Linked DNA regions of Homo sapiens. The protein of the gene in region 3 purifies or fractionates together with the protein of the main gene of each other region. This does not show direct contact. Each region holds a gene or a part of one and is shown on either strand. Other genes may lie near its edges.

Region 1 (7,509 bases), on a different chromosome or scaffold from region 3:
GCCTGCCACCATGCCCGACTAACTTTTTATATTTTTAGTAGAGACGGGGTTTCACCGTGTTAGCCAGGATGGTCTCGATCTCCTGACCTCGTGATCTGCCCGCCTCGGCCTCCCGAAGTGCTGGGATTACAGGCATAAGCCACCGCGCCCAGCCTCCCATTTCTATTCATGGAAATGGACAAGAAGTTTCTGGTCCCTTTCTGCTTTGGTGTTGGGAAAGAGGAAAAAGAAAGGGAACACATTAAAGAGATTAGAAAAAAGCAACTTAACAAAAAGGAAACCATTCAACTGGAGAAAGCCGACTGAAAAACAAACAAAAAAAAAAAGAAATCATTATAAAGCAGTAAAAATCCTTCACTAATTCTGAAGGATAAAGAATACACTAATGGGGGAGGGCAGTGGGGGACAGCATTAGGAAAAAGAGCTAATACATGTGGGGCTTAATACTTAGGTGATGGGTTGATAGGTGCAGCAAACCACCATGGTACATGTTTACCTATGTAACAAACATGCACATCCTGCACATGCACCCTAGAACTTTAAAAAAAAAAAAACAGCTGGGCACAGTGGCTCACACCTGTAATCCCAGCACTTTGGGAGGCTGAAATGGGAGGCTCCCTTGAGGCCAGGAGTTTGAGACAAGCCTGGGCAACATAGTGAGACTCCACCTCTATAAAGATTAAAAATAAAAATATTGACAGGGCATGGTGGCTTGTGACTTGAATCCCAGCACTTTTGGAGGCCGAGGAGGGAGGATCCTTGGAACTCATGGAGTTCGAGACAAGCCTGGGTAACATAGTGAGACCCCATCTCCTAAAAAATAAATAAATAGGCTGGGCATGGTGGCTCATTCCTGTAATCCCAGAGCTTTGGGAGGCTGAGGCAGGCTGATCACCTGAGGTCAGGAGTTCGAGACCAGCCTGACCAACATGGTAAAACCCTGTCTCTACTAAAAAAATATAAAAAAAATTAGCCAGGTGTGGTGGCGCAGGAGGCTGAGGCAGGAGAATCACTTGAACCTGGGAGTTGGAGGTTGCAGTGAGCCAAGATCACACCATTGCACTCCAGCTTGGGCAACAGAGTGAGACTCTGTCTTAAAAATAAATAAATAAATAGACCGGGTGTGGTGGCTCACGCCTGTAATCCCAGCACTTTGGGAGGCCGAGGCAGGTGGATCACCTGAGGTCAGGAGTTCGAGACCAGACTGGCCAACATGGTGAAAACCTGTCTCTACTAAAAATATAAAAACTAGCTGGGCATGGTGGTGGGTGCCTGTAATCCCAGCTACTCAGGAGGCTGAGGCAGGAGAATTACTTGAACCCAGGAGACAGAGGTTGCAGTGAGCCGACATGGTGCCACTGCACTCCAGCCTTGGCAGCAGAGTGAGACTCCGTCTCAAAATAAATAAATAAATAAAAATAAATACATAAATAAATAATAAATTTAAATAAATTTTAAAATAAAATAAATAAATATATTAGCTGGGCATGGTGGTATGTGCCCATAGTCCCAGCTACCAGGGAGGCTGAGGTGGGAGGATTGCTTGAGCCCAGGAGTTCCAGGTTACAGTGTGCTATGATCTTGCCACTGCATTCCAGCCTGGGTGACAGAATGAGACCCCATCTCTATTAAAAAAAATACACACATATATACACACACACACATATATACATACACACACACACACACACATATATATACATATGGCCAGATGTGATGGCTCACGCCTGTAATCCTAGTACTTTGGGAGGCCGAGATGGATGGATTGCCTGAGCTCAGGAGTTCGAGAGCACTGTGGGCAACATGATGAAACCCCATCTCTACTGAAATATGAAAAATTGGCTGGGCATGGTGGCACGTGCTTGTAATCCCACCTACTTAGGAAGCTGAGGCATGAGAATCGCTTAAACCCGGGAGGCAGAGGTTGCAGTGAGCCGAGATGGTGCCACTGCACTCCAGCCTGGGAGACAGTGCGAGACTCTTGTCTCCAAAAAATAAAAAATAAAAAAAGACATATTATTTCATAGACAATATTAATCTTAAAGATTAATGATGCAGCTGCTTTGGAAAACATCCTGGCACTTTCTCAAAAGTTAAATACAGAATTACTATATAATCCAGCAGTCCCACTTCTAGATATATACCCGAGTATTGAAACTATATGTCCACACAAAAACTTGTACATTAATCAAAAGCAGTATTATTCATAGTAGCTAAAAAGTAGAAATAATCCAAATGTCCAGAAATTGATAAGTGGATAAATAAAATGTGGTATATCCACACAATGGAATATTATTTGGCAACAATAAGGAATAAAGTACTGATACATGCTACAACTAATGAACCTTAGTTCATTATACTAAATAAAAGGAGCCAGTCACAAAGGATCACATACCGTATGTTCCCATTTATATGAAATGTTTAAAAGAGGCAAATCTAAAGAGACAGAAAGTAGATTAGTGATTGCCTAGAGCTGGGGAGTTTGTAGGGAAACAGGGAGTAACTGCTAATGTGTACAGAGTTTCCTTTTGGGGTGATGAAAATGTTCTAAAATTGACTGTGATATAAGCTACACACTTCTGAATACACCAACCATCAGTGAACTGTACACTTTAATCTCACCATAATGTCATAATAATAGGGTCTCAAGATTCTGTTTCATAAAATGCAGGAATTTGTTGTTGTAAGGTTAATAAAATGGCTAGTTTGGGCCTGCTAAAAACAGCAAGAGTTAATCATTTCATACCTGAGTTTTTATTATCACTGGATTCATTATTATGAGTTTCTGTTCTATCCAAAAGATAACTCTATGATGCAAACTCAAGCCAAAAAGAAAATGTCAAAGCTACCTACTCCTAACAAACCCTCTTAGGCACATTAATAGGTTAAAACAATGACAATTTAACCTGACCTGAATGGCCGGGTGCAGTGGCTCATGCCTATAATCCCAGCACTTTGGAAGGCCAAGGCAGGTGATAGCTTGAGCTCAGGAACTTGAGACTGCCCTGAGCAACATGGTGAAACCCTATGTCTACAAAACATACAAAAATTTGCCAGGTGTGGTGGTGCACACCTGTAGTCCCAGCTACTTGCAAGGCTGAGGTGGGAGGACTGCATGAGCCTGGGAGGTCAAGGGTGCAGTGAGCCATGTACACACCACTGCATTCCAGCCTGGGTGACAAAGTAAGACTCTATTTCAAAAACAACAACAACAACAAACAACAACAACAACAACAACAAAACTGACCTAACAAGAAGTTAGTTAAAATAGTCAAAACTCTCAGAACTAAAAAATAAAAAAAACAGGCCGGGTGCTGTGGGTCATGCCTGTAATCCCAGCACTTTGGGAGGCCGAGGCGGGCGGATCACGAGGTCAGAAGATCGAGACCATCCTGGCTAACACGGTGAAACCTCATCTCTACCAAAAAAATACAAAAAAATTAGCTGGGCATGGTGGTGGGCGCCTGTAGTCCCAGCTACTCGGGAAGCTGAGGCAGGAGAATGGCGTGAACCCAGGAGGTGGAGCTTGCAGTGAGCCGAGATTGCGCCACTGCACTCCAGCCTGGGCGACAGAGTGAGACTCTGTCTCAAAAAATAAATACATAAAAATTTAAAAAATAATAATTAAAAAAACAAAAAACCTCTCAGAACTACTTGAAACACATATTTATCTCTACGTTGACTAATGATGTGTTTTTTTTCTAAGTGTATATTGTGCCTTGAGATATTGGCTAATAAAAATATGAAGCCAGCACACACAAGCACAGGAAAGCATTATTTCATTTTTATCTCAGCCTTTATTACTTTTTTATTTGCTTTACAATGTACATAATATATTTAATAAAACAGTAAAGTATGCAATTTCTAAATAGATATTTACATATTGAGAGTGAATGATCAAAAGTTTCTTTGCAACAAATAACAAACTACACAGTTCATTTACTCAGTTAACAATGCCTGCCAGGTTAGGCATGAGAAATGCTCAAATGGATAAGGACCACAGTTAAGGGAGGGGATGCCATAATGAAAACAGAAGCATTAAGTGGAAGCAGGTATTCTGGGTCCTGAGACCTCCCTCACCCTTTCCTCCACCTAGATTCCAGAACACTGAGTCAGACCTCCACCATCTAGGCAGGAGTTTAGAGGATCCCTCTCTGCAAAATCTGGCCAGACCGGGAGGAAAGTTCTCAGGATGCTGACATAGACCACTAAAGATATATAGTTAAGGTCAGAATAGACAAGCCCCACTCATGTGTTTACAGCTTCCACTCAACTTTTTAGTCACTCACTCTTAAATATGAGTGGCCAAGCAAGGATTACAGACATCTGAGAAACAGTCATCACAAAAAAGTAGACACTGAAATATATGGATAAAACACGCCTCACATGAAACAGAGACTGAGCAGAGAGAAGAAGAAAAATATCCTCCAAATGATGAGGATATTATGACCATGAAAGCCGTACAGGGTATTGTCTGTAAAAAAGGAACAGTAAAGGAAGAAGAAAAAAGTTCCTGAAATTAAAAATAAGAAAGTAGAAGTGAAAATGAAATATACCAGACAGTACTTGAGAAAATCTCCCAGGAAATATAGAAAGAAAGAAAGAAAAAAAAAAGAGACAAAGATGAAAAACAGAAGAAAAAAGAAAACCAAAGGACTTTTAAACGAATGGTGCTGGAACAATTAAGACAGCTCTGGCCAGGAGTGGTGGTTCACGCCTGTAATCCCAGCACTTTGGGAGGCCAAGGCGGATGGATCACCTGAGGTCAGGGGTTTGAGACCAGCCTGGCCAACATGGTGAAACCCTGTCTCTACTAAAAATACCAAAAGTAGCCAGGCTTGGTGGCAGGCGCCTGTAATCCCAGCTACTCGGGGGACTAAGGCAGGAGAATCGCTTGAACCTGGGAGGTGGAGGTTGCAGTGAGCTGAGATCACGCCACTGCACTCCAACCTGGGGGACAAGAGCAAGACTTTGTCTCAAAAAAAAAAAAAAAAAGACATCTCTGTGAAAAAGATGAACAGATGAACCTCGGCCAGGCACGGTGGCTCACGCCTGTAATCAAGCACTTTGGGAGGCCGAGGCGGGCAGATCATGAGGTCAGCAGTTTGAGACCAGCCTGGCCAATATGGTGAAACCCTGTCTCTACTAAAAATACAAAAATTAGCTGGGCATAGTGGTGGGTGCCTGTAATCCCAGCTACTAGGGAAGCTGAGGCAGGAGAATTGCTTGAACCCCGGAGGCGAGGGGTTGCAGTGAGCTGAGATTGCGCCACTGCACTCCAGCCTGGGAGACAGAGCCAGACTCCGCCTCAAAAAAAAAAAGATGAACCTCAATGCATACCCCTTATTAGAAAAAATTTAACTCAAAATGGAAAATGGATTACAGACATAAATGTAAAATTTAAAACTATAAGACTTCTAGAGAACACAGGAGAAAATCTTTGTGGCCTTGGATAAGGTGTATATCTTGGAACACAAAAAGAACTAATCATCTAAAAATTGATAAATTAGGCCGGGCGCGGTGGCTCACGCCTGTAATCCCAGCACTTTGGGAGGCCGAGGTGGGCGGATCCCAAGATCGGGAGGTCGAGACCATCCTGGCTAACATGGTGAAACCCCATCTCTACTAAAAATACAAAAAAAAATTAGCCTGGCGTGGTGGTGGGCGCCTGTAGTCCCAGCTACTCGGGAGGCTGAGGCAGGAGAATGGCGTGAGCCTGAGAGGTGGAGCTTGCAGTGAGCCGAGATGGCACCACTGCACTCCAGCCCAGGCGACAGAGCAAGCCTCCGTCTCAAAAACAAACAAACAAACAAAAATTGATAAATTAGGTTAATCAAAGTTGAAAATGTCTATTATTTGAAAAGTACTGTTGAAAAAAGACAAGTTGTAGTTTGAGAGAATATATGCAAAACATATCCGATAAAGGACTTATCATGCCTGTAATCCATCTCAGCACTCTGGGAGGCCCAGGTGGGCGGATTGCTTGAACCCAGGTGTTCCAAGACCAGCCTGGGCAACATGGCAAAACCCTGTCTCTACAAAAAATACATACATTAGCCAGATGTGGTGGCGCATGCCTGTGGTCCCAGCTACTCTGGAGACAGGGTGGGAGAATCCCTTGAGCCCAGGAGGTGGAGGTTTCAGTGAGCCAAGATCATGCCACTGCACTCTAGCCTGACTCTAGTCTGGGTGACAGAGTGAGACCCTGTCTCAAAAAAAACAAAAACAAAAACAAAAAACAGAACTTCTATCCAGAATATATAAAGAAACTTCCCAACTAAAAACAAAAACAATCCTACTTTAAAAATGGGCAAAAGGTTTGAAAAGCCACTTCAAAGAAGTTACATACATGGCAAATAAGCACATGAAAAGATTGTCAACATCATTAGTCATTAGGGAGATATATAAGTTAAAACCACAATGAGACACCAGCATGTACCTATTAGAATGAAGGAAACTGACAATACTGTGCAGGGAAGGGTGTGGGGCAGTTGAAGCTCTCATCCATTGCTGTTGGAAAAGCAGAATGATACACTTTGGAAAATAGTTTGGCACATAACTTACAAAGTTAAACACATACGACATAACACAGTAAATCCTACTCTTTGATATTGACTTTACCCAAGAGAAATGCAAACATATGTCCATACAAAAATCTGTACCTTAATGTATAGAGTAGCTTTCTTCATATTGTCTCAGACTGAAAATTACTCAAGTGTCCATCAATAGAAGAATAAGCAAACTGTGTATATATATCCACAGTGGAATTCTACTCAGCAATAAAAAGGAATGAACTACTGATACATGCAACTTGGTTGAATTCTAAATGCATAATACTAAGTGGAAGAAGCCAGACTTTTCAAAAGGTTATATATTATATATATGATTCCATTTTATGACATGTTGGAAAAGGCAAAACTATAATGACAGAAAACATATCAGCAGCTGCCAGAGAAGGGTGAGGAGAGGGAGTGAACTACAAGAAGTTGTAGTTCTTTGTAGAGAGGGTTTATGTGTTGCCTGTGGTGGTAGTTACACAACTGTATGCTTTTGTCAAAATTCATAGAACTGTACACTAACAAAGTTTAATTTTACTCTGTGTAAATTATACCTCCATAAACCTGACTTTTAAAAAAATTAAAGGGCTGGCCAGGTGTGGTGGCTCACGCCTGTAATTCTAGGACTTTGGGAGGCTGAGGCATGCGGATCACTTGAGGTCAGGAGTTCAAGACCAGCCTGGCCAACATGGTGAAACCCCACCTCTACTAAAAATACAAAAAGTAGCCAGGCATGGTGGCACATGCCTGTAATCCCAGCTACTCGGGAGGCTGAGGCAGGAGAATCGCTTGAACTCAAGAAGCAGAGGTTGCAGTGAGCCAAGATCGTGCCATTGCACTCCAGCCTGGCGGACAAGAGCGAAACTTCATTTCAAAAAAAAAAAAAAAATTAAAGGGCCAGTCCAACAGATCCAACATTCATCTAATAAGAGTTCTGGGAAAAGCTATGCAG
Region 2 (7,757 bases), on a different chromosome or scaffold from region 3:
TCCAACTTAAGAAACTGGAAAAAGATGAGCTAACTAAAAGAAAATCAAGCAAAAGGAAGAAAATAATAAAGATTAGGGCAGAGATAAATGAAACAAAGGGAATAGATTAACAATAGAATCAATGAAACCAAAAGTTGGTTCTTTGAAAAGAACAACAAAATTGCCAAACTCTTTTTTGGTTCCATATGGAATTTAAAGTAGTTTTTTCCAATTCTGTGAAGAAAGTCAATGGTAGCTTGACTGGTCATTAGAGAAATGCAAATCAAAACCACAATGAGATAACATCTCACGCCAGTTAGAATGGCAATCATTAAAAAGTCAGGAAACAGTGGCACGTGCCTGTAATCCCAGCTACTCGGGAGGCTGAGGGAGGATAACTGCTTGAGCCCAGGAGATGGAGGTTGCAGTGAGCTGAGATCATGCCACTGCACTGGAGCCTGGCCCACAGAGCGAGACTCTGTCTCAAAAAAAAAAAAAAAGGAAACAACAGATGCTAGAGAGGATGTGGAGAAATAGGAACACTTTTACACTGTTGGTGGGAGTGTAAATTAGTTCAAGCATTGTGGAAGACAGTGTGGTGATTCCTCAAGGATCTTGAACCAGAAATACCATTTGACCCAGCAATCCTATTACTGGGTGTATACCCAAAGGATCATAAATCATTATACTATAAAGACACATGCACACATATGTTTATTGCAGCACTGTTCACAATAGCAAAGACTTGGAACCAACCCAAATGCCCATCAGTGACAGACTGTGTAAAGAAAATGTGGTACATATACACCATGGAATACTATGCAGCCATAAAGAAGGATGAGTGCATGTCCTTTGCAGAGACATGAATGAAGCTGGAAACCATCATTCTCAGCAAACTAACAGAAGAACAGAAAACCAAACACCACATGTTCTGACTCATAAGTGGGAGTTGAACAATGAGAACACATGGACACAGGGAGGGGAACATCACACACCGGGGCCTGTTGGGGGGTGGAGGGGTAGGGGAGGGATAGCATTAGAAAAAATACCTAATGTAGGTGACAGGTTGATGGGTGCAGCACATCACCATGGCGCGTGTATACCTATGCAACAAACCTGCATGTTCGGCACATGTATCCCAGAACTTACTATTTAAAATAAATAAATAAATAAATAAAAACTATTAGGACTAATAAGCAAGTTCAGCAAGGTTGGAGGATATAAAATCAATATGCAAAAATTAATTCCATTTTATAAACTTGCAAGGAGCAATCTAAAAATGAAATTAAGAAAACAATTCCATTCACAATAGCATCATAAATAACAAAATACTTGAAGTACAAAACTTATACACTGAACACTATGAAACATTGTTAAAACAAGTTTTAAAAACCTAAATAAATGGAATGATATCCATCTTGTGCTCATGGATTGAAAGACTTAATTTTAATAAGACAGCAACACTCTCCAAATTGATCTACAGAGTCAAATCAATACCTATTAGCATTCCAACTGCCTTATTTGCAGAAACTGATAAGCTGTTCTTAAAATTCATATGAAATTGCAAAGGGCTCCAAATAACCAAAACAATCTTTGAAAAGATTGGATCCTCCACAGTAGGAGGACTCACACTTTCTGATTTCAGAACTTTCTACAAAGCTACAACAGTCAAGAGAGTGTCATACCAGCATAAGGGCAGACATATAGACCAATGTGTATTGACCATTTCATTTCCTCTTCTGGGAATTGTCTCTTTATATACTTTGTATTTTTTATGTGTAATCTTTTATCATTGCCTTACTGTTTTAAAACAAATCAGCTTTATTAACATAGAAATAGAAAGTCCAAAAATACATCCATACATCCATGGTCAATTGATTTTCCAGAGTGTCAAAATCATTCCATAGAGAAAGAATAGTATCCTCAATAGAGTGCTGGGATAGCTGGATATCCACATGCAAAGGAATGAATTTGAACCCCTTCCTCACACCATGCATAAAAACGAACACAAAATGGATCATAGACCTAAATGAATGAACTACAACTATAAAACTCTTAGAAGAAAGAATGAGTAAACCTTCATGACCTTGGATTGGGCAAAGTATTCTTAGACATGACACCAGAAGCATGAGCAACAAAATAGAAACTCGATAAATTGTACTTCTTAAAAATCTAACTTTGTTTTTCAAAGGACACCCTCAAGAAAGTGAAAAAAAAGAACACACTGAATTGGAGAAAATATTTGCAAATCATATATGTGATAAAGGACTTGTGTCTAGCATATATAAAGAACTCTTATAACTCAATAATACAAAGACTAGTAATCCAGTTTAAAAATGGGCAAAAGATCTAAGTCAATATTTTTCCAAGGAAGATACACAAATGGCCAATAAGAATGTAAAAATATGCTTGAAGTCATCAGTCGTTAGGGAAATGCAAATCAAACTAGAATAAAGTACCACTTCACATCCATGTTAGAGAGAATGTGGAGAAATTGGAACCCCATAGGCTGCCAGTGGGATGTAATATGGTACAGCCACTGTGAAAAAGTCAGGCATTTCATCAAAGGGTTAAACATAGAGTTGCCACAGGACTGAGGAATTCCGTTCTTAGGTATAAATCCCAAAAAACTGAAAACAGATATTAAAAAAAAAAACCTGGCACATGAATATTCGATGGTAGGATTATTTAGAATAGCCAAAAGGTGGGAACAACCCAAATGTCCCTCAATGAATGAATGGATAAACAAGATATGGTCTATCCATATGATGGAATAGTATTCAGCCACAAAAAGGAATGAAGTACTGATACTTGCTACAGTGTGAATGAACCTTGAAAACATTATGCTAAGTGAAAGCAGCCAGTCACAAAAATGCACATATTATATGATTTCATGTATATGAAATGTTCAGAATAGGGAAATTTATAGAGACAGAAAGTACATTAATGGTTGCCAAAGGCTGGAGGAACATGGGATAGAGAGATGATAGCTAAAAGGTTCTGGGTTCCTTTTTTTAAAAAATATATATACATATTTTATTATACTTTTAGTTCTAGGGTACCTGTGCAGAACGTGCAGGTTTGTTACATATGTATACGTGTGCCATGTTGGTGTGCTGCACCCATTAACTCGTCATTTACATTTACATTAGGTAAATGTAATCCCTCCTAATGCTATCCCTCCCCCCTCCCCCCACCCCTCTGGGTTACTTTTTGAAGTGATAAAAATGTTATAAAATTAACTGTGGTGATAGTTGTATATATCTGTGAGTATATTAAAAACCTATGCTAAGAATTGTTCACTTTAAATGGGTGAATTGTACAGTATGTGAATTTTCATGTTAATGAAGCTGATTTTTTTTAAAGAGTAAGGCAACGATAAAAGATTACACATAGAAGGCCGGGCGCGGTGGCTCACGCCTGTAATCCCAGCACTTTGGGAGGCCGAGGCGGGCAGATCACAAGGTCAGGAGATCGAGACCATCCTGGCTAATACAGTGTAACCTTATCTCTACTAAAAATACAAAAAATTAGCCGGGCGTGGTGGCGGGCACCTGTAGTCCCACCTACTCGGGAGGCTGAGGCAGGAGAATGGCATGAACCCGGGAGGTAGAGGTTGCAGTGGGCCGAGATCGCGCCACTGCACTCCAGCCTGGGCGACAGAGAGAGACTCTGTCTCAAAAAAAAAATAAAATAAAATTACACATAAAAAATACAAAGGATATGAAGAGACAATTCCCAGAAGAGGAAATGAAATGGTCAATACACAAGACTTGGTATTGACCTCATCAGTAGTCAGAGAAATGTAAAAATAAAGCAATGAGACATATTTTTATTTAACTAAATTCTATTGAGAAGAATTAAGAAAGAATAAAACATACATATGATGCTTGAAATAATGCAGAGCGATGGTCTTTTCACACATTGCTGGGTAGAATTTAAACTGTTAAATAGTTTTGGAAAGTAGAATGCCCATGTCCGTTAAATTTAAAATACTTATACTCTTTGAATTCATGGCCCCTTTTTTAAGACTGTAGCTCACAGAAATAAAATACTTGTGGCTACACTTTAAAATAAGTTATGACAAAAGGGAAATTAGGTGGAAATGGAAAGATATTTATGTTGCTTTATTAATTGCAAAAAGCAATTATTAATTGAAAGTAAGGCCCCAGTTTAATTTTTGTAAAAACAAACAGCAATAAATGCATATAGGAATACAAACACATATAATATTTGTGTGTTTATGTGAGCATGGAAACACTTGTAGACTAATATATAATTATGTGCCTTCCCTTTTTTGTGCAGTTTTGTATTGCTTTGCTAGTTTCAATGAAAAGGTATGACATTGGCAGTTTGAACGACAGAGAACAGTTTTAATGAACAGAGGGTGGGTGGGGTAGTTAGAAAGGGAGGGATCGCGCTAATGTTGCAGCCATTTTGTGTGCGCTCCTCTTACAGATAGTGCGGCGGCCCAGGCGTCGCGTCTACGCGGGGGATTACAGTAACCCGGTTGTCAGTGATGAGTCAGAGTGCGTGGTGCTGATGCTGCTGCCATTTCATCACCTTTGCGAGCGCAGCATCCATCCCTCCGCTCTCCCGGCGCCTGGGCCTACCCAGCTTCGGGCTCCCAGGCCAGCGATGCGCTCGCGGCTGAGCTAGATCCTGCCGAGCCGCGCTCTCTGAGGCGTCGGCGGGGCGCCCCCTCCCGCCGTCCCCGGTCCGGGCCAAGGAGACCTGCAGAGCCGCGGCCATGGAGGCCATCTGGCTGTACCAGTTCCGGCTCATTGTCATCGGGGATTCCACAGTGGGCAAGTCCTGCCTGATCCGCCGCTTCACCGAGGGTCGCTTTGCCCAGGTTTCTGACCCCACCGTGGGGGTGGATTTTTTCTCCCGCTTGGTGGAGATCGAGCCAGGAAAACGCATCAAGCTCCAGATCTGGGATACCGCGGGTCAAGAGAGGTTCAGGTGGGAGCGCAGTCCGGGCCCGCAAGCAGTGGGAGGGTCTTCGGGGTTTGCACCGCCTCTGGGGAGAGAGGACTTCCTGGTTCTAGGTGCGGTCCAGGAGGGCAACACCAAGGGTCTTGAGGATTCTGCCGAAGCCCACCTTCGGCTAACCCGGAGTTTAGTGCAAGGAAAGAAGCGCCCTGGCAGGGAAGGCCGGTCAATAACACATATTGCTTGCACCACAACTCCACCAACCTGCCCTTTGGTGGCTAACAAACTAGCTGGAATTGATCTCTGTATCTGTAATTCATCAATCTCAGTCCCTATGTTACATACTTTCAAAAACGTTCCCAGGTCATCCTAACATAACTGACAGAGATTTAAATACATAAATACATGTGTATTATGTTTTATTTCCACATCTGTGTGTGTGCACATATATATGCTAACATATGTTCTAACATGAAATAGATACGATTGATTCCTTCTTGCAACCAGCACACATTCAGTGATCATCTACTATGTGCCAGACTCTGGGCTTGTTCCTGGGAAAACAGTGTGAGGAGACTCACACAAGGGGATGCCATGTAATCTAAACAGACAAAGCCCCTTCATTCTTGGAACTTCTGTGCTAACATAGTTGAGGGAAATAGATAATCAGCAATTACGAAAGTGTGTCTTGCTCATATTTGTATGCCCACTCCCTACTGTAACACTTGGCACAAAATGAACATGCTTAATTTCAATCAATGAATTCATTGAATAATCAATGAATATGTTTACTTTCACTCAGAACCCTTTGCTTTTCTATTGTAGCATGTATTATTTGTAATTATATGTATGAACACAGAGGAGGAAAGGTTAACTGGAGAAGATGAGACCGGATGAGTATGACTGCCTAAGCAAAGACAGGAAACGCCCAGGGATAGGAAACAGCATGAATAAAGACAGAAGTGAGAGGGAGCAGAGTGTACACAGAAAACTTTGCAGAGAACAATTTGAACTAAAGTAGAGCAGCAGGAACCAGATCAAGAAAACTCAATAGCCCAAGTTTATGATCATTTACTCATTTATCTATTGAAAACTAACTAAGCATAGAAGATACTGGTTGGGTAATTGAAGAGGGGTAAGGAGAAGAAATAATTACAAACTTAAGTTACCTCCAGCTCCCCACTTCCACAAACACCACTGTGGAAAATATCCTTGTACAGGTTCACTTTGAACTTGCGATTGCATTTCTCCTAAGCAAAGAAAGGTATCTTTTATGTGTTTGTTGGAATTTCTTTCTATATGAACAGCCTGTTCATATCCACTGCTTATTTATTTATTGGGCAATATGGACTTGTAAGAGTACTTTATAGATTAAGAATATTAACCCTTTCCTGTCATGTATGTTGTAAGATATATTCCTAGTTTATCATCTGTCTTTTCACATTATTTAAGATTTTTTAATGTAGGGAAGAATTTAAGGTTTATGTAGCCTTATGTCCATGCTTAGAAGGCCTTTGTCACTTTCTTTGCTAAGTACTCACAAACAATTAATGTAATAATATATTCCAGAGTTTTGACAGTGATCTACAGCTTGCTTGTTGATTTCTTGAATCAACCTTCTCACAAATCAAAACCTTTGTTTGTTCATGTCTAAATTTTCTGGTAAATCTACCATTCTCCATGAATCTTCAAACCTAAGAGACGAGAAATGCTTTCAGTCCCCAGGGCTGATTTGCCTGATTTTGGAGACTTAAAGTCATTTGTAAGTTTTACTTTTACCATCATCTAGCTTGGACTGTAGGTCCCTGGACAATGCTTGTTCTGCTAACATTGAGCCATTTTCTCTAAGCTATTGAGTCCTTCGTTGTCTATCTTCTTTATCTGAGGAGACAGAAAACCTAAAAATAGACATAGGTAAAAAAAATCACAGTAGTCTAAAGCAAGTGACTGCAGAGACAAATAGGTCCATACCCTGTAATAAGCTTTAATACACTGTAAGCAAAGTGCCATAATGTATATTTATAATGAGGTTCCTCAAGTCAAGAAGTTAAAACATGTGAAGTTTCTTCTGATGGCTCCTGAGTTGAGTTGGCCTCTCTGAAATGTGTCAGGAAACAGGGCTGAGAGGCACTTTGCCTGAACCCTTCGCCATCTCTCTTTTTCCCATTCCCACAGGCCTTGAAAATAAAAAATAAAATTGTGTTTCTCCTCACAGAAGAGATTGAGGATCCCTGTTAGCTAATAATAATAATAATAATAATAATAAACAATAATAATAATGGAAAGAGAAAAAAACATGGTAATGATAAATGGAAAAAATGGAGTAGCAAGATACCTACTTTAAATATTTTGTTAACTATCATAAATTCATTTCTATGTTTTAAAAATCCTGTTTCAACTGCTAGCATTTGTAATGAACTCTCCACGTCACAGAACACTTTAATATCCATTGTTTCATTTTGCCTCATGGTAACACTGTGACTTGGGTATCCTATTTTGCAGAAAAGGAAGTCTCTGTCAGTTATTCAGATTTGGGGGGTGGGAGAGTTAGTTGTAGTTTTACCTGAAGGCAAGAAATAGAACTCAGTTATGTCCCAGGGTCACTCTCCAGTGCTGAATCCATGGAAAATGCCTAAAAGTTCATGAACATTCGTTTCTAGAAGATGCCCATCTCAAAGTTTGGCCCAATTGGAAACTCACATATTAGTAGTAGTATGGAATGCCATTTGTATTCCTTTGTTTTTTTAAAAAAAAAGAAAATCATTTTTATTAAAGGACTGTGTCACTAACCAGGAACACTTGAATATACTGAGTTCATTGACATGCAGAAGTTTGGGCACAGC
Region 3 (8,274 bases):
ATGACATCATGCTGATCCGCCTGCCCAGGCAGGCACGTCTGAGTCCTGCTGTGCAGCCCCTCAACCTCAGCCAGACCTGTGTCTCCCCAGGCATGCAGTGTCTCATCTCAGGCTGGGGGGCCGTGTCCAGCCCCAAGGGTATGACCTGGCCCAGAACTCTCTCTGAAACTTGCTCCCTCACCCCTCTGTCTCTGCCTTTTCATCTCTGTCTTCTCCTTTTCTCTCTCCTCTCTCTCTCTGTCAGTCTATCTATCTGCCAATCGATATATTTAACCAAATATAAGATGCTAGCATTTTTAAGATGTGCCATTATTTCATGAACTGCGAAGAAGTGGAAGAAGGAGGAGGAGGAGAAGAAAAAAAGGAGGAGGAGGAAAGATCCCATTAGATCCCATTGATTATATAACACCATTTTCTGGAAGACACATTCTAATTTCAGAGTGTTTGTTTGTTTGTTTGTTTGTTTGTTTTTGAGACAGGGTCTCGCTTTGTTGCTCAGGCTGGAGTGCAGCGGTGTGATCACGGCTCATTGCAGCTTTGAACTCCTGGGCTCAAGTGATCCTCTCGCCTCAACCTCCCAAGTAGCTGGGATTACAGATATGCACCACCACATCCCACACCGGGGTCATTTTTTTATTATTTATTATTATTATTATTATTATCTTTTTTTTTGTATTTTTAGTAGAGACAGAGGTTTCACCATATTGGCCAGGCTGGTCTCAAATTCCTGACCTGGTGATCTGCCCGCCTTGGACTCCCAAAGTGCTGGGAAAACAGGCATGAGCCACTGCACCCAGCCAAAATTCTAGTCTTTTTTAAATCTAGTCATATCTTAGATTTAATTCAGATAATGTTAGAATCCTGGAGTTTTTTGATCCAGGGGAATCTGGAATGTTAGAATCTTGGATTCATAAAACTCTAAACGTTGAGCCTCTAGATTCTAGAATCATGGATACTAGTGTGTCAGAATCTGAGAATTCTAGAATCTTAGATTCTGGGCATTCTAATAGTATCCTGGAATCCACCTGATGCAGGAATCCTCTCTCCATTGCCTCTGAAAAGTGACCATCCATACTGTTCCAATTTTCTTCCCTCCATGAATAAAGCACTGATTCTGGTAAAAGATGCTGGGTGGGAATTTCCCATCATGCATTGCTCCATGATGGGACCTCCTTTAACTTAAGCCTTATGCTAAAAATTTTTATTATTTTTAGCAAAGATGAGGTCTTGCTATGTTGTCCAGGCTAGTCTCAAACTCCTGGCCTCCCAAAGTGCTGAGATTACAAGTGTGAGCCACTGTACCTGGCCCAGAGATGTTTAAATGTGAAATGCGTTCATCTTAGAATGGGAATAAGACCATGTCTCTCAGAGTCACGGATCACTGACCCATTAGCCAAATTGGGTCAGTGGATTGGAAAAACAGTCTGAATTTGTTGCTGCCAATATCTAAAACTTGGAAAGTTTTATACAAAAGCCAGGTTTCTGGATTCACCTGAAAAAGTTTGAAGAACTCACATTCCCAAAATAGCAAGCATTGGGCTGAGTCAATGGAGGCTGCCCCCTTCAGCCAAGATAAGTTCTCTGATTCACTCCAATGGACCCAAATGGCTCCTGTCTCCCTGCACAGCCCCCGTCCCCGACTTCTGTTTACCAATTCTGTTTATCATATCCCTTGATGCATCGGAGCCTGCACCCATGTCTTATATAGATGCACATGTGTATTATATATCCATATCCACATCTATACTGACTACACTGTATCTGGTATCTCTGTCTATGTCTCTGTCTCCATCAGTGACCATCTTCCTGCAAATCTCTTTCCTTTTATCTCACTGCCTTCATTCCACCCCTTGAGGTCTGGGTCTTTTTCTATTTCTTTTTTTTTTTTTTTTAAGAGACTGAGTCTTGCTCTTGTTGCCCAGGCTGGAGTGCAGTGGTGTGATCTCGGCTCACTGCAACCTCCACCTCCTGGGTTTTAAGTGATCCTCCTGCCTCAGCCTCCCGAGTAGCTGGGACTACAGGTGTGCAACAGCATGCCCAGCTGATTTTTTGTATTTTCAGTAGAGACGGAGTTTCACCATGTTGGCCAGGATGGTCTCAATCTCTTGACCTTGTGATCCGCCCGCCTCAGCCTCCCAAAGTGCTAGGGAGTTATATATGCATCTCCTCTTATCTCTTGGCTCTCTGCATGCATCTTTCTGTTTCTCTTCCTTCCTTTCTTTTTTTTTTTTTTTTTTTTTTTTTTTTTTTTTTTTTTGAGACGGAGTCTTGCTCTGTCTCCCAGGCTGGAGTGCAGTGACCAGTCTCGGCTCACTGCAACCTCCACCTCCCAGGTTCAAGTGATTCTCGTGCCTCAGCCTCCCGAGTAGCTGGGATTACAGGCGCCTGCCACCATGCCTGGCTAATTTTTGTATATTTAGCAGAGATGGGGTTTCACCATGTTGGCTGGGCTGGTCTCAAACTCCTGACCTCAAGCGATCCGCCGGCCTCGGCCTCCAAAACACTGGGATTACAGGCATGAGCCACGGTGCCCGGCCAGCCTCTCTCTCTACTTGGCCCTCTTCCTCCTTGTCTCCATTTGTTTCTCTTGTGTGCTATGACTGTCTGTCTGTCACTGTCTCTTGTCTCTATCTTTGAGAGTCCTAAATGTGGCTCCATTGGTCCTTTGGAAAAGCTGCAGGGAGGACTCAGGGCAGTGGGGTGCTGAGTGTGTTGGAGACAGTTGCAGATCCTTGACAGTTCTCTTCCCTGACAGCGCTGTTTCCAGTCACACTGCAGTGTGCCAACATCAGCATCCTGGAGAACAAACTCTGTCACTGGGCATACCCTGGACACATCTCGGACAGCATGCTCTGTGCGGGCCTGTGGGAGGGGGGCCGAGGTTCCTGCCAGGTGAGACCTTACTCTGGGGAAAATGAGGCTGTCCTGCCAAGTTTTCTAGGATTTAGGGGAGCAGAGGGGTCGGCCCCCAGCCTTCCTGGGTCAAAATGAGAAGGAGACTGGGATACCTGGTTCCTGGGAGAGGACGGGACCAGGGCCTGGACTCCTTAGTGTAAAAGAGAAAAGGTCTGGAGGTCCAGACTTCTGGATCTACAGGAGGAGTGGGCTGGGCGTCCAGAGTCTGAGTCCTCGGGGAGGAGGAGGTTAGGTCCTGCGGGGAGGTGGGCCCTCTGAGCTTTTACTCCTGGGTCTGAGGAAGAAGAGGCTGGAGATGGAGGACTCTCGGATGTTGGAGGAGGAAGGGGCTGGGGCCTTTCTGGGAGGGAGGAAGTGGCCCGTGTAATTGTCATGAACAGAGTGGCCTAACAGTTCCTCTGCCCTTCTCTCGCGTACAGGGTGACTCTGGGGGCCCCCTGGTTTGCAATGGAACCTTGGCAGGCGTGGTGTCTGGGGGTGCTGAGCCCTGCTCCAGACCCCGGCGCCCCGCAGTCTACACCAGCGTATGCCACTACCTTGACTGGATCCAAGAAATCATGGAGAACTGAGCCCGCGCGCCACGGGGGCACCTTGGAAGACCAAGAGAGGCCGAAGGGCACGGGGTAGGGGGTTCTCGTAGGGTCCCAGCCTCAATGGTTCCCGCCCTGGACCTCCAGCTGCCCTGACTCCCCTCTGGACACTAAGACTCCGCCCCTGAGGCTCCGCCCCCTCACGAGGTCAAGCAAGACACAGTCGCGCCCCCTCGGAACGGAGCAGGGACACGCCCTTCAGAGCCCGTCTCTATGACGTCACCGACAGCCATCACCTCCTTCTTGGAACAGCACAGCCTGTGGCTCCGCCCCAAGGAACCACTTACACAAAATAGCTCCGCCCCTCGGAACTTTGCCCAGTGGGACTTCCCCTCGGGACTCCACCCCTTGTGGCCCCGCCTCCTTCACCAGAGATCTCGCCCCTCGTGATGTCAGGGGCGCAGTAGCTCCGCCCACGTGGAGCTCGGGCGGTGTAGAGCTCAGCCCCTTGTGGCCCCGTCCTGGGCGTGTGCTGGGTTTGAATCCTGGCGGAGACCTGGGGGGAAATTGAGGGAGGGTCTGGATACCTTTAGAGCCAATGCAACGGATGATTTTTCAGTAAACGCGGGAAACCTCACCTTCTTTCTGCCTGAGCTGTGAGATGAGTGGAGAGCAAACGGGTGGGCGGTGAAGGGCAGATGAGGGAACCGGTACCGCCTTGCAACTCCCCCTTAAACCCCTAGTAAGTTTTGCCTAAAGTCTCTGTCCATCAGCCCTATTGCAGCAAGACTCCTGGGTTCTGCTTGGGTTGGTCTTGCCGCCTCCAGGGGAAGGGGAAACCAGGTCACAGTGCCTCCCAAACCTGCCCTCCCAGATCCCGGACCTCTCAGGGGACAGCGGGCGGGGCCTGATCCACCCTCTGGTTTCTGACCCTAGAAGACCTGCCTTTCTTCGGTTCCCGGTTACTGGCAGCAGCCCCCTCCTCCCACAAAAGATCAGGTTCCAAGCTTCTCCTTTTAAAAGTACTTAGAATTCAGCCCCCAGCTCTCTCCTCCCTCACACCCAGGAATCCAGGCCCCTAGCCCCTCCTCCCTCAGACCCAGGAGTCCTGGCCCCTAGCAGCCCCCTCCTCCCTCAGACCCAGGAGTCTGGGCCCCCAGCCCCTCCTCGGTCAGACCTAAATCCCAGGTCCCAGTCCCTCCTCCCTTAGATTTAGGAGTCCAGGCCCCCAGCCTCTCCTCCCTCAGACCCAGGAATCCAGGCCCCCAGCCTCCTCCCCTCTCAGAACTAAAATCTTGGCCCCCAGCCCTTTATGTTTCAGATCGTAGAGTCTCAGCACCGAGTCCCTCCTCTCCCTAGCCTCAGGAGTCTGAGATTCCAGCCCCTCCTCCCTCAAGATTTCACGTTCAATCCCCTCCGCCCCTTCTCACTCACACCCAGTGTTCCAGTTCCCAGAAGCTCCCCAGGCTCTAGTGCAGGAGGAGAAGGAGGAGGAGCAGGAGGTGGAGATTCCCAGTTAAAAGGCTCCAGAATCGTGTACCAGGCAGAGAACTGAAGTACTGGGGCCTCCTCCACTGGGTCCGAATCAGTAGGTGACCCCGCCCCTGGATTCTGGAAGGTGAGGTGCAGAGGTACTCAGATACAGACATCAGGCCCCGGACCCTCCTTCTCCAGATTCCAGGACCCCAGCCTCAGATGCCCTTCTCTGTCGAGATCCAGCAGTCTGGACCCCGGCTTCCTCCTCTCCCTAATTTAGGAGTCCCAGCTCCCAGCTCCCTGTCCCCTCAGACCCAGACATCGAGGACTCCCCCCTCCCTTGGAATGTAGGAATCCAGTCCCCCAGCCTCCTCCTTCCTCCAGAGAAGCCCAGAACAGCCCCAGATACTCTCGGCTGCCTCCCCAGTGCCCAAATCCAGAACTGGGAGCTCAGGCTCCTCCTTCCTGTTTACCGGCCCCGCCCTCTCCATTTCCCAGACCTCACCATGGGACGCCCCCGACCTCGTGCGGCCAAGACGTGGATGTTCCTGCTCTTGCTGGGGGGAGCCTGGGCAGGTGAGGAGGGTTGCGGAGGCCTCCGGAGGGGAGGGATCTGAAGGCAGCAGTGGCGCTGGGGAGTCTGTGGGAATGCCGCGGGGGTTATGTGGGTGCGTGTGCACGGATGTGAAGAGTGCGATACGGTGCAGGAGCCTCTGTGGGCTTTCCTCAGGGTGGACAGAGGCAAGAAACAGGTAGCAGCAGGTAGGAGTAGGTTCCGTGATGCTGTAAATTGTCTGAATAGCTACAGCCTTTGGGGGCTGCTTGCTTGGGGGCATAGATTCACCTGGGAGTACTCGGGGCCTGTAGACTCATGTGGAAGCATGTGGGGGCATTCTTGGGTGTGTGACTCTTGTATGATGACACATGGACTGAAATGAGTGTCCCCGTGTGGCAGCGTGTGGAAGCCTGGACCTCCTCACTAAGTTGTATGCGGAGAACTTGCCGTGTGTCCATTTGAACCCACAGTGGCCTTCCCAGCCCTCGCACTGCCCCAGAGGGTGGCGATCCAACCCTCTCCCTCCTGCTGCAGGACACTCCAGGGCACAGGAGGACAAGGTGCTGGGGGGTCATGAGTGCCAACCCCATTCGCAGCCTTGGCAGGCGGCCTTGTTCCAGGGCCAGCAACTACTCTGTGGCGGTGTCCTTGTAGGTGGCAACTGGGTCCTTACAGCTGCCCACTGTAAAAAACCGTGAGTGGATGATGGGGGCAGAGGTCAGCTGGGGCTTAAGGAAAGAGGGGGCTGGGGTTTCGACTCAGGAAGGAGAGAGCTGAGGACTGGACTCCTGGGTCTGAAGGAGGAGGGGGCTGGGGGCAATACCCCTGCCTGGGTCCCAAACTATCCCCACCATTACAGGAAATACACAGTACGCCTGGGAGACCACAGCCTACAGAATAAAGATGGCCCAGAGCAAGAAATACCTGTGGTTCAGTCCATCCCACACCCCTGCTACAACAGCAGCGATGTGGAGGACCACAACCATGATCTGATGCTTCTTCAACTGCGTGACCAGGCATCCCTGGGGTCCAAAGTGAAGCCCATCAGCCTGGCAGATCATTGCACCCAGCCTGGCCAGAAGTGCACCGTCTCAGGCTGGGGCACTGTCACCAGTCCCCGAGGTAGTGGGCTTGTCCACTAATGGGAGGGAGAGGAGGAGCTGGTTGGCCCAGTGGAACCCAAGCTATTGGCAAAGCTTGGTCCCCCAGAGGGAGACAAAGAAGGGAAAGTGATCATGATGTTGAGATTCACAAGCAGGAGTCATATGAGAAGCCTCGAAGATCTGACTACTAACAAGAGTGGTGAGAGAAAGAACCAACTAGCAGATTGTTAAGCAGGGCCAGAAAAGCCCATCCTGTATGGCGGAGAGCACTACCCTATGGGACCTTTGGTTGTATAGGATTTTATATAATCTTAACACACTTGGGATATTTGGACTTCTCAGAGGCCCAGGAAAACAGGCTCCTAAGCACCTTCTCCCCCACCTCCCTCCTTTTTTTTTTTTTTTTTTTTTTTTTTTTTTTTTTTTTTTTTGCAGGGGGACACAGTTTCACTCAATCGCCCAGGCTGGAGTGCAGTGGCACAATCTCAGCTCACTACAATCTCTGCCTCCTGGGTTTAAGCGATTCTCGAACCTCAGCCTCCCGAGTAGCTGGGATTACAGGCACCCGCCACCACGCGAGCTAATTTTTGTATTTGTTGTAGAGACAGGGTTTCGCCATGTTGACCAGGCTGGTCTCGAACTCCTGACCTCAAGTGATCTGCCCGCCTCGGCCTACCAAAGTGCTGGGATTACAAGCATGAGCCACCGCCCCTGGCCTTTTTCTCCTTCTTGAACCCAGGAAACCTGGGCCCTGGTCACCTCTTCCCTCAGACCCGGGAGTCTAGGCCCTTCTTCTCCCAGGACCCAGCAGTCCTAGCTCCCTCTTGACTCTGGACCCCAAAATCTGGACCTCCAATGAAGCTGTCCCTTTGGGACTCCAGAATCCAGAGAGCCCCTCGCCTTCCTTCACAGTGAAAACATTGGGACTCACCTAAGAGAGTCAAGGAGCTTCTCCAGGAAGTGGCAAAGTCAGCATTCAGGTCCCTGCCTGCCTCACTCCTGCTCTGAATGCTTTGGATGAGACAGTTTGCGGCTGTGGAAACACACGTGCTCGCAAATCAAGTAGATCAGTTCAAACTATGGCTCTGCCCTTTCTCCCTGGGCAAATTCCTTTCCATCTCTGAGCCTCACTTTCCTTATCTGCAAAATGGGAATCATTAACCAATAGATTTTTTAGCTACGTGAGGGTTCAGGTTACATCAGTTTTCTTCATTGTGTTCTCCTAGTGCTCAGAATGGTGCCTGCTACATGGTAGATGCTCAATAAATATTTGTTGAATGGATGACCTGATGAATAAATAATGAAATGAATGAATGCATCTCTCCTTCAAAGCGCTGTTGTGAGGATTAAATGAGATTATGAGCATATTGCTTTTGGCACGTAGAGATGCCAGATGGAAGTTTTTCCCCCTCAAAGAGGCTTTGGAGAAGTCTATTCCTCAAAAGAGGTTAATAAAAAAGATCAATTCCACCTTCAATCATTAATTCAACTCTTATTTACTGAGCACCTAGTATGCCTGAGGTGCTGTTGCAGGCGCTGGATATACAGCCATGAGCAAACTGTACAAAGTCCTTGTCGTTATGGAGTTGCAAGCTAGGTGGGAGAAATAGACAATAAACAAATACACATAAAATAAAACATTAGGCAAAGTGCTGTAAGGAAATATTGTGGAGCGTAAAAGGATAGGGAGTAA
Region 4 (7,000 bases), on a different chromosome or scaffold from region 3:
ACTGAAGATGCAGAAAGCGGAGGCAAGCCAGAAGGCTCCATAGGGCCTGAGGACCTCCTGCAGAGAGAGGAAAGGCCATGGGTGGACGCGGGGAGAGATCAGGAAGCCCCACGCGATCACTGAGACAGCTCTGCCACCAGGGGGTCCAGTCCCCTGACCCCAGCCTGCCCTGCCCAAGGCCACACCCATTTTATCTCCACCCAGCTCTGGGACATGGAGGATAGTCTGGCATCCAGTCTGGTGGCTTGGGCCGAGCACTGTCCAAGATACCGAGGTCGTATGGCTGGGGAAACTGAGGCTCACAGCAATGAAGTGACTGCCTCAAGGCCAGAGACCCGCTATCCAGTGACAGCTGGGCTCCTGTTCCAGGTCTGACTCCAGGGCCCACAGACCAACCCTCCACCCTCAGCTTTGGCCCCACCCTGAGGCCCCCGGTGGGTTCTTTCATAGTGTGGTGGAAATGGGTGAGACAGGGCAAAGCGAGCATGGCCCCAGGAGCACATGGGGCCTTCAGTCAGAACCTGTCCCTGCCATCCACCACCACTGTGACCTCCCACGTGCCAGAACTAAAAAGGTGCTTCTCAGCTCCTGGTCCTCTGGGACCTGGCGATCTCTCCCTCCTCGAAGGCCTTCTCTTGGCCTCTTGGACATTTTCTCTCCTAAAAAAGGACTGTTAGGTCCTTTGTCACCTCCTTCTTGGCTTCTTTTCCTCCTTCCTTTGCTGCGCATCCCCTCCCAGCTGCAGCAAGTAATCTCCACCCCCAGGCATCGGCCTGGCCCCCTCGATGTGCTCCCCGGGCAGTCCTGCCTAAGCGGGTCCCAAGCTCTGCACAGACTCCAGGCTGGCCCCTCATGACCCGCCCCACCACATCCTAACCCAGCCCCACTGGGGTTCATTCTCCCACCACTGCCATGGCCTTTCCCGTCCTTGTCATAAAGGGGACCCTGTCCATCTTGTTCATTGCTCTCCCTGGCGCCTTGAATGGGCCTGGACATGGCACATGCCAGGAGACCTGGAGGGCACAAATGACTGAACAAACAACCAGATCATCTACCCCAGAACTGTCTCTCTGTTGGCTGGGAAGCCCCGGGACAGGGGCCACACCTGTGCCAGTCCATCCGTGAGAAGGCAGCAACAGGATGAACTGAATTAATGCTCCCATCCGTCTTAAGAGCAAGCTGCTGTTACTCTCCTCCAGTTTCAGCCAAAGAAGCGGGCTCAGAGAAGGTAAGCATCATACCCAAGGTCACACAGCAAGGAAGTAGCCAGGGTGGGGCTGCAGCCCAGCCCTGTCAACTCTTCCCATGTAAGACCTTAGGCTCAAGGCCCGCTTTCCTGACGTTCACTAAGGGGAGAGGCCAGCTGTGCTGTCTGACTGCCAAGACAGGCAGAGGACTCCCAAGGGGTCACAGCCTGGGTTCCCCATCTGGCCTAGCCCATCTGCCTCCACGTCGCCTTGCCCAAGATGGCCAGTGGCCCAGGCATGGTGGGGCTCAGGCTGCATGTAAGGCCACGACCCTGGGTCTTCTGCAATACAAGTGGTTTTAGAAAGTGCTTCTCGGCTGACTGCACGAACGCGGTGCTGGTGGAGCCTGCCCTCACCATGAGGCTGCTGAACTCCTTGGTCACGAGAAAGGCCATGAGCCAGTTGGTGAGGACGCAGATGCCTGTCGCCACGCCCTTGACATGCAGAGGGAAGATCTCTGACATGAGGAGCCAGGGGATGGGCCCCCAGCCCACCGCAAAGCCTGTGGGAGCGAGACAGGCAAGACAGGCATCAGGGTCCGCAGGGCTGGGCTCCTCAGCTTGCTGCAGAGCCAAGAGACCCAGCTTCCCAGCCTGTGGGGCTGTGGGGTCCCGGATCCCAGTGTGGTCCCACCAGCTCCATGCTTTCCTGCCAAGGCCTCGGCCAGCCTCTTCCCTCCTCAGGCACAGGCTCTGTCTCTGAGATGGGGTCACAACGGGGCCTGCTCGAGGGCTGCTCAGGGGATTAAGTGAAAGGAACGCAGAGGGGCCTAGTTCCACAGCTGCATGTGGTCAGAGCTAGAAATGCAGAGCTTGGAACTTACGAGAGGAGAGGTGAGGCTGGGGAAGACCCCACCTGCCGGGAGCCGCCACAGCAGGGCCGGGGGGATCACCTCCCACTCCTCGCCCAGCCTCCCACAGGCCCCCTTACCGGCGATGAAGAGGCACATGCTGCCCACGGCCAGCCAGGCCAGCCCCACGCTGGCATCAACAGGCTGTGCAGAGACAGGCGCCGAGATGGCCACGTGCGAGGAGTTGCCAGGGCCACCCTGGGTCAGCTTGAAGTAGGCGCCGAAGGCACTCGTGCTGAACACCATGACCACACCTGCAGGCGGGAGGGCGGCAGTGGGCGGGGCACCCGGGGAACGGCCCAGGGCGCAGCAGCATGGCCTGGATGCCTCTGAGAGGGGCAGGCCCGGCTCCCAGAGAACGGCCAGCTTGGTGTTCTGGCACCTTGGCCGCAGAAGCCCTGACTGGGTGGCAGCCACCCCGCCTTGGACCTCAGCGAACTGCAAAAAGTTCCCGGAGCAGACCCTCTGGGCCGAGGAAATGGGAGGTACCGGCACAGAAGCAGCAGCGAGTAACCCTCAGCCCCGACGGTCGTCTTCGCAGCAGCTGCTGGGTACCAAATGTCCGTGGGCCGCAGCTCTTGCTGAAGGCCTCACGTGGATCACCTCCCACTCCTCAAAATGGTGCTGAGGGAGGCACTGCCATTACCCCCACTTCCCAGAGGGGGAGACTGAGGCTCAGAGAGGTAAAGTCACTTGTCCAAAAGGACCCACAAACTCTTGAGTCACTTCACCTTCCTGGCCCTCAGTTTTCCCGTCATAAGCTGGGGCTGTGAGAGTGCCTTCTGGTGGGTTCACCACAGAGGTTAAAGGCGTGGTGTGGGAGTGCCACTGGCATGGACAGGCCTGCAGTGAGTGCTTGGTGACAAGCTGCTGTCAAATCATGGCCGCATTAGTCCATGATGTTTGTCATCACAAATGCTCCCTGTCCTCCTCCTGCAGTGTGGTGGCCTTGGCGAAGGCCCTCCCCCGCATGGCGGGGAGGCTGCACAGGGGTGAACCCTCACCTGACAAGACCAGGAGCAGCCTCCGCCCTGCTCTGTCCATGATGAGAGCCGCCACAGCTGTGAACAGCACCTGGATGACACCCACGACGACCGAGGCCAGGCTGCTGTCCTGGGGGAGACAGAGCCCAGGCAGGTCAGGTGGGCCAGCTGAGAGCTGGGTCCCTCCCTCTCCAGGCCTGTGCTGGATGGCTGGGCCCTGGGCTTGGGGAGGAAGCTCCATCTATGTGGGGGCTGGACGAGGCAGGCCAGGCAGGGCCCTTTTACCTTGAACTTGGCCTCTTCAAAGATGGTCTCTGCATAGAACATGACGGCGTTGACCCCCGACAGCTGCTGGAAGGCCATCAGGGAGACGCCGATGATGAAGGGCTTGTAGATGCCGGGCTGCCGCAGCAGGGCCAGGTGAAAGCTCTGCTCTGACGGATACTGGCCATCAGGATTTCTCTCTCCCCTCCCGCAAGCGGCCCCCCTCTGGGGGTCTACTGTCCTAAGGCTTGGGGAGCGCTGACTCCCACGTCTTGGCTCCTCATCCCAGCACCCCCTGTGTCCTCAGGTGTGCAGACAAGTCCCAGCCTCCCCATGTGTCAGGTGAGATGACCCTCACCTGCCCAGGGCACTTCCTGATAGGTGGGGGGGAGCCACAAAGAGGTAATCTGGGCAAAGAGCAAGCTGCTGCCCTCATCCCTGCCACCACCAACACATCCAGCACCTGCCTCAGGTCTGGGCCTGGCCCTAGCTAAGCACCTCCTACAGCCCTGACCCTCCCCTCCCCACTGAACCCATCCTCCTCGCTGACCCCACCCTCCCCACTGAGCCCCCCTCCTCCCTAAGCCCCGCCTTCCTTTCCCCCACTGAGTCCCACCCAGCACTGTGAAGCAGGTGCTGACTCCCACATCACAGGTGAAGAGCTAAAGCTTAGGTGAGGGGCAGCGTGGGGGCTTCAAACCCATGCCTGGGTGACTCTAAAACCCAGACTTTTAGCCCTCTACCCTGCCTTGCAACTCCTTTGTTAAATCCAAGTCCTCAGCTCTGCCTCTGTATCCCCCACCAGGCCTGGCCATTCTCTTCCTGGGACAGTAAGGGTCAAAGCTCGGGCTTTGCTGGTGACTTTGGAGGCCAGGGCCCAGCTCCGTGGGGCTCCAGCTGTCTTGGCCTGCTCAAAGACAGGACACACTGGGCCTGTCCTCGCTGAGGGTGGAGGGTGGATAGGCACCTCCCTGTCCCCCACCCCCCAAGTGTGTGGCCTTGGGAACAGGCTGTGCTACCCTCCCGTGACTGCTGTCCCACTCCTGTCAGCTCTGCCTTCCAGCCTCTCACCTGCTCAGCCCCGATGGGGGGGTCTTCCCAGCCCTGCTCGGAGCCCCACAGGAACCGCAGGGCGGCCATGGCCTCCTGGCGCCTGTGCTGAGTCAGCAGGAAGCGCGGGGTCTCGGGCATGAAGCACATGAGAAGCAGCATGAGGGAGGGGGGCACGCAGCCCAGCACAGCCAGCCAGCGCCACTCCAGCACCCAGCCTGCGGGGGGTGGGTGGAGGAGGCTGGCGTCAGAGCCAGGGTGAGCCAGCCTGGGCCTTGCCAGCCTCAAAGACTCAGCTTCAGAGATGGGGCCTCGCTGCCTCTGCACATCTGCCCTCATGTTCGCTACTGACATTGCCATTATCACAACTGTTCATGAAGGCACATGGCACGGGCCAATCACACCAGCTGCGGAAGCGACAGTGGGTATGACAACGCGGACATTACTAGGCTGCATCCGTTCAACGAAACATTTATGTAGCCACAAAAATGAAGGATGAGGTGCTTGCTGCGTGTCCGCATGGTATGATGTGGCACCATTTGTAGAAGAGGTGGGGGAGGGAGGATAAATATGCATGTCCCTCATATGAACAGACTCTCTGAAGGCTACCAAGAAACAGGCAATGGGGACTCCCCCAGACAAGAAAGGGACAGAGGCGGAGGAAGCTTTTCACTGGACATCTCTCCACTCTGGCACTTGAGTGTTGAGTCATTTGAATGCATTATCTATTCAAAGTATACATGAAAGTAGAGAGGTGAGAGGATTTTGCTGTCTTGACGTATGAAGAACAGCATAAGTGCAGAATTACCTAGTTTTATATAAAGTTAAAAGGTTCTCTTACAAAGGGGCCCTGGAATAAATGAGTCTAGGGCATTGCTGCTCTAATTACTAATTTTTCCTAAGCCCAAGGCTTACCCATCCCTGGTTCCCAGTGGAAAAATACCTCTAAGGTAGCCATGATGTCCCTATTTTTCTTCTGTGCTGGGGGTGCAGACAATTGTTCTATGAAGTCTAGTCGTTGGAACATGATTGCCCCAATGTGAAGCAAACGTGCCACCACCATGTCACTTTGTGGAGTTATCAGAGTTCACCCACCCCAGTGGATCGAAACTCACAGAAATTGATCAGGAAAGGCAGGAGAAGCAACAAGCACATATTAAGATGAGCTGAAGATAGTGCCACGGGTGGGTGGACACCCAGTACCTGTCCCCGAAATGATGAATGTCAACACCTGCACACAGTGGGGGCTTTGGTTTACTCAGGTCTCCCAAGGTAGCCAGATCGCTGGCAGGATTCTGAATTTGTTAGGGTGGTTAAGTGGGTAAAAATGAAACACCAAAGACCTGTGTATCATCCGCCCTGACGATGCAGAGGGCTTGTGCCCTGGGCCAGGCCATAGCCCGTCAGGCCCCCGAGGCCTCCTACCCCGATGATCCCCATGGTTCTCAAGTCATCCCTTGACAATTCTCATTTGGAACCCACTGTTAGGCACTTTTCATGTGTCAATTAATTTAATGGACAGGTACTGGACTAGATGAGGTTATGCCCATTTCAAGACAGAGAAACTGAGGCTTTCAGAGGTGGTATGACTTGGCCAAGGTCACACAGCACGTAGGAGAGGCTATCCCCAAACTCAGGATGGTCAGATTTGAAGCCTGCCCTTGTTTTTTCTTTCTTTTTGAGACAGAGTCTCACTGTGTCGCCCACACTGGAGTGCAGTGGCGCGATCTCAGCTCACTGAAACCTCAGCCTTCTGGGTTCAAGCAATTCTTGTGCCTCAGCCCCCCAGGTAGCTGGGATTACAGGTGCCCACCACCACGCCTGGCTAATTTTTGTATTTTAAATAGAAATGGGTTTTCACCATGTTGGCCAGGCTGATCTCGAACTCCTGACCTCAAGTGATCCGCCCACCTCTGCCTCCCAAAGTGCTGGGATTACAGGTGTGAGCCACTGGGTCTGGCCTCTAAAGCCTGGCCTCTTTCTAATGAGAACACACCTGTCTCCTGAAGTTTCTTCATGCTGGCCCAGCTTTGCCCCTCGGGGTCCCCAGGACCCCGGCCTCCTTCACGTTGCAACTCGCCGACATGGTGAATCTGGCACTGACATTCTCAGGGGACTTGCTCAGCCCTTTACTCGCCCGGGCTGAAGATTTTTACAGGGACCCACCCACCTCTGGAGCCCTCTGGTTTGTCACTGCACAGTAAGGTACTGACCTAAGCAGTCAGCCCTTCCCACACCCCTAGAGGGGGCTTCAGGAAAGCTGAGGGTATCACCTTCTCCAGCTGTCCCTGGAACTCAGTCATAAGACACACCTATCGGCCGGGCGCGGTGGCTCACACCTGTAATCCCAGCACTTTGGGAAGCTGAGGTTTGGCGGTTCATGAGGTCAGGAGATCAAGACCATCCTGGCTAACACGGTGAAACCCCCTTTCTACCAAAAATACAAACAATTAGCCAGGTGTGGTGGCACATGCCTGTAGTCCCAGCTACTTGGGAAGCTGAGACAGGAGAATCGCTTGAACCCAGGAGGCAGAGGTTGCAGAGAGCCACCACTGCACTCCAGCCTGGGCGACAGAGCGGGACTCTGTCTCAAAAAAAAAAAAAAA

The links.
Region 1: the proteins of KLK8 (region 3) and DDX19B purify together in Homo sapiens (affinity purification with mass spectrometry; 2 studies listed by BioGRID and IntAct, with this or other methods). This does not show direct contact.
Region 2: the proteins of KLK8 (region 3) and RAB39B purify together in Homo sapiens (affinity purification with mass spectrometry; 3 studies listed by BioGRID and IntAct, with this or other methods). This does not show direct contact.
Region 4: the proteins of KLK8 (region 3) and SLC2A8 purify together in Homo sapiens (affinity purification with mass spectrometry; 3 studies listed by BioGRID and IntAct, with this or other methods). This does not show direct contact.

What each region holds. Positions count from the first base shown.
Region 1 is NC_000016.10:70,301,859-70,309,367, reverse strand, and holds part of DDX19B (ATP-dependent RNA helicase DDX19B), read right to left. Parts: intron 1-7,509. UniProt on the Homo sapiens protein: ATP-dependent RNA helicase involved in mRNA export from the nucleus.
Region 2 is NC_000023.11:155,261,261-155,269,017, reverse strand, and holds the start of RAB39B (ras-related protein Rab-39B), read left to right. Parts: upstream 1-4,526; 5' UTR 4,527-4,729; coding exon 4,730-4,944; intron 4,945-7,757. UniProt on the Homo sapiens protein: The small GTPases Rab are key regulators of intracellular membrane trafficking, from the formation of transport vesicles to their fusion with membranes.
Region 3 is NC_000019.10:50,998,322-51,006,595, reverse strand, and holds the start of KLK8 (kallikrein-8 isoform 1 preproprotein), read left to right. Parts: upstream 1-4,991; 5' UTR 4,992-5,064; intron 5,065-5,420; 5' UTR 5,421-5,428; coding exon 5,429-5,498; intron 5,499-5,877; coding exon of another isoform or gene 5,878-6,012; coding exon 6,013-6,172; intron 6,173-6,337; coding exon 6,338-6,600; intron 6,601-8,274. Other genes in the region: KLK9 (kallikrein-9 precursor), read left to right, coding at 1-138, 2,756-2,892, 3,336-3,485. UniProt on the Homo sapiens protein: Serine protease which is capable of degrading a number of proteins such as casein, fibrinogen, kininogen, fibronectin and collagen type IV. Also cleaves L1CAM in response to increased neural activity.
Region 4 is NC_000009.12:127,400,169-127,407,168, reverse strand, and holds part of SLC2A8 (solute carrier family 2, facilitated glucose transporter member 8), read right to left. Parts: intron 4,613-7,000; coding exon 4,416-4,612; intron 3,510-4,415; coding exon 3,366-3,509; intron 3,211-3,365; coding exon 3,102-3,210; intron 2,352-3,101; coding exon 2,178-2,351; intron 1,750-2,177; coding exon 1,604-1,749; intron 58-1,603; coding exon 1-57.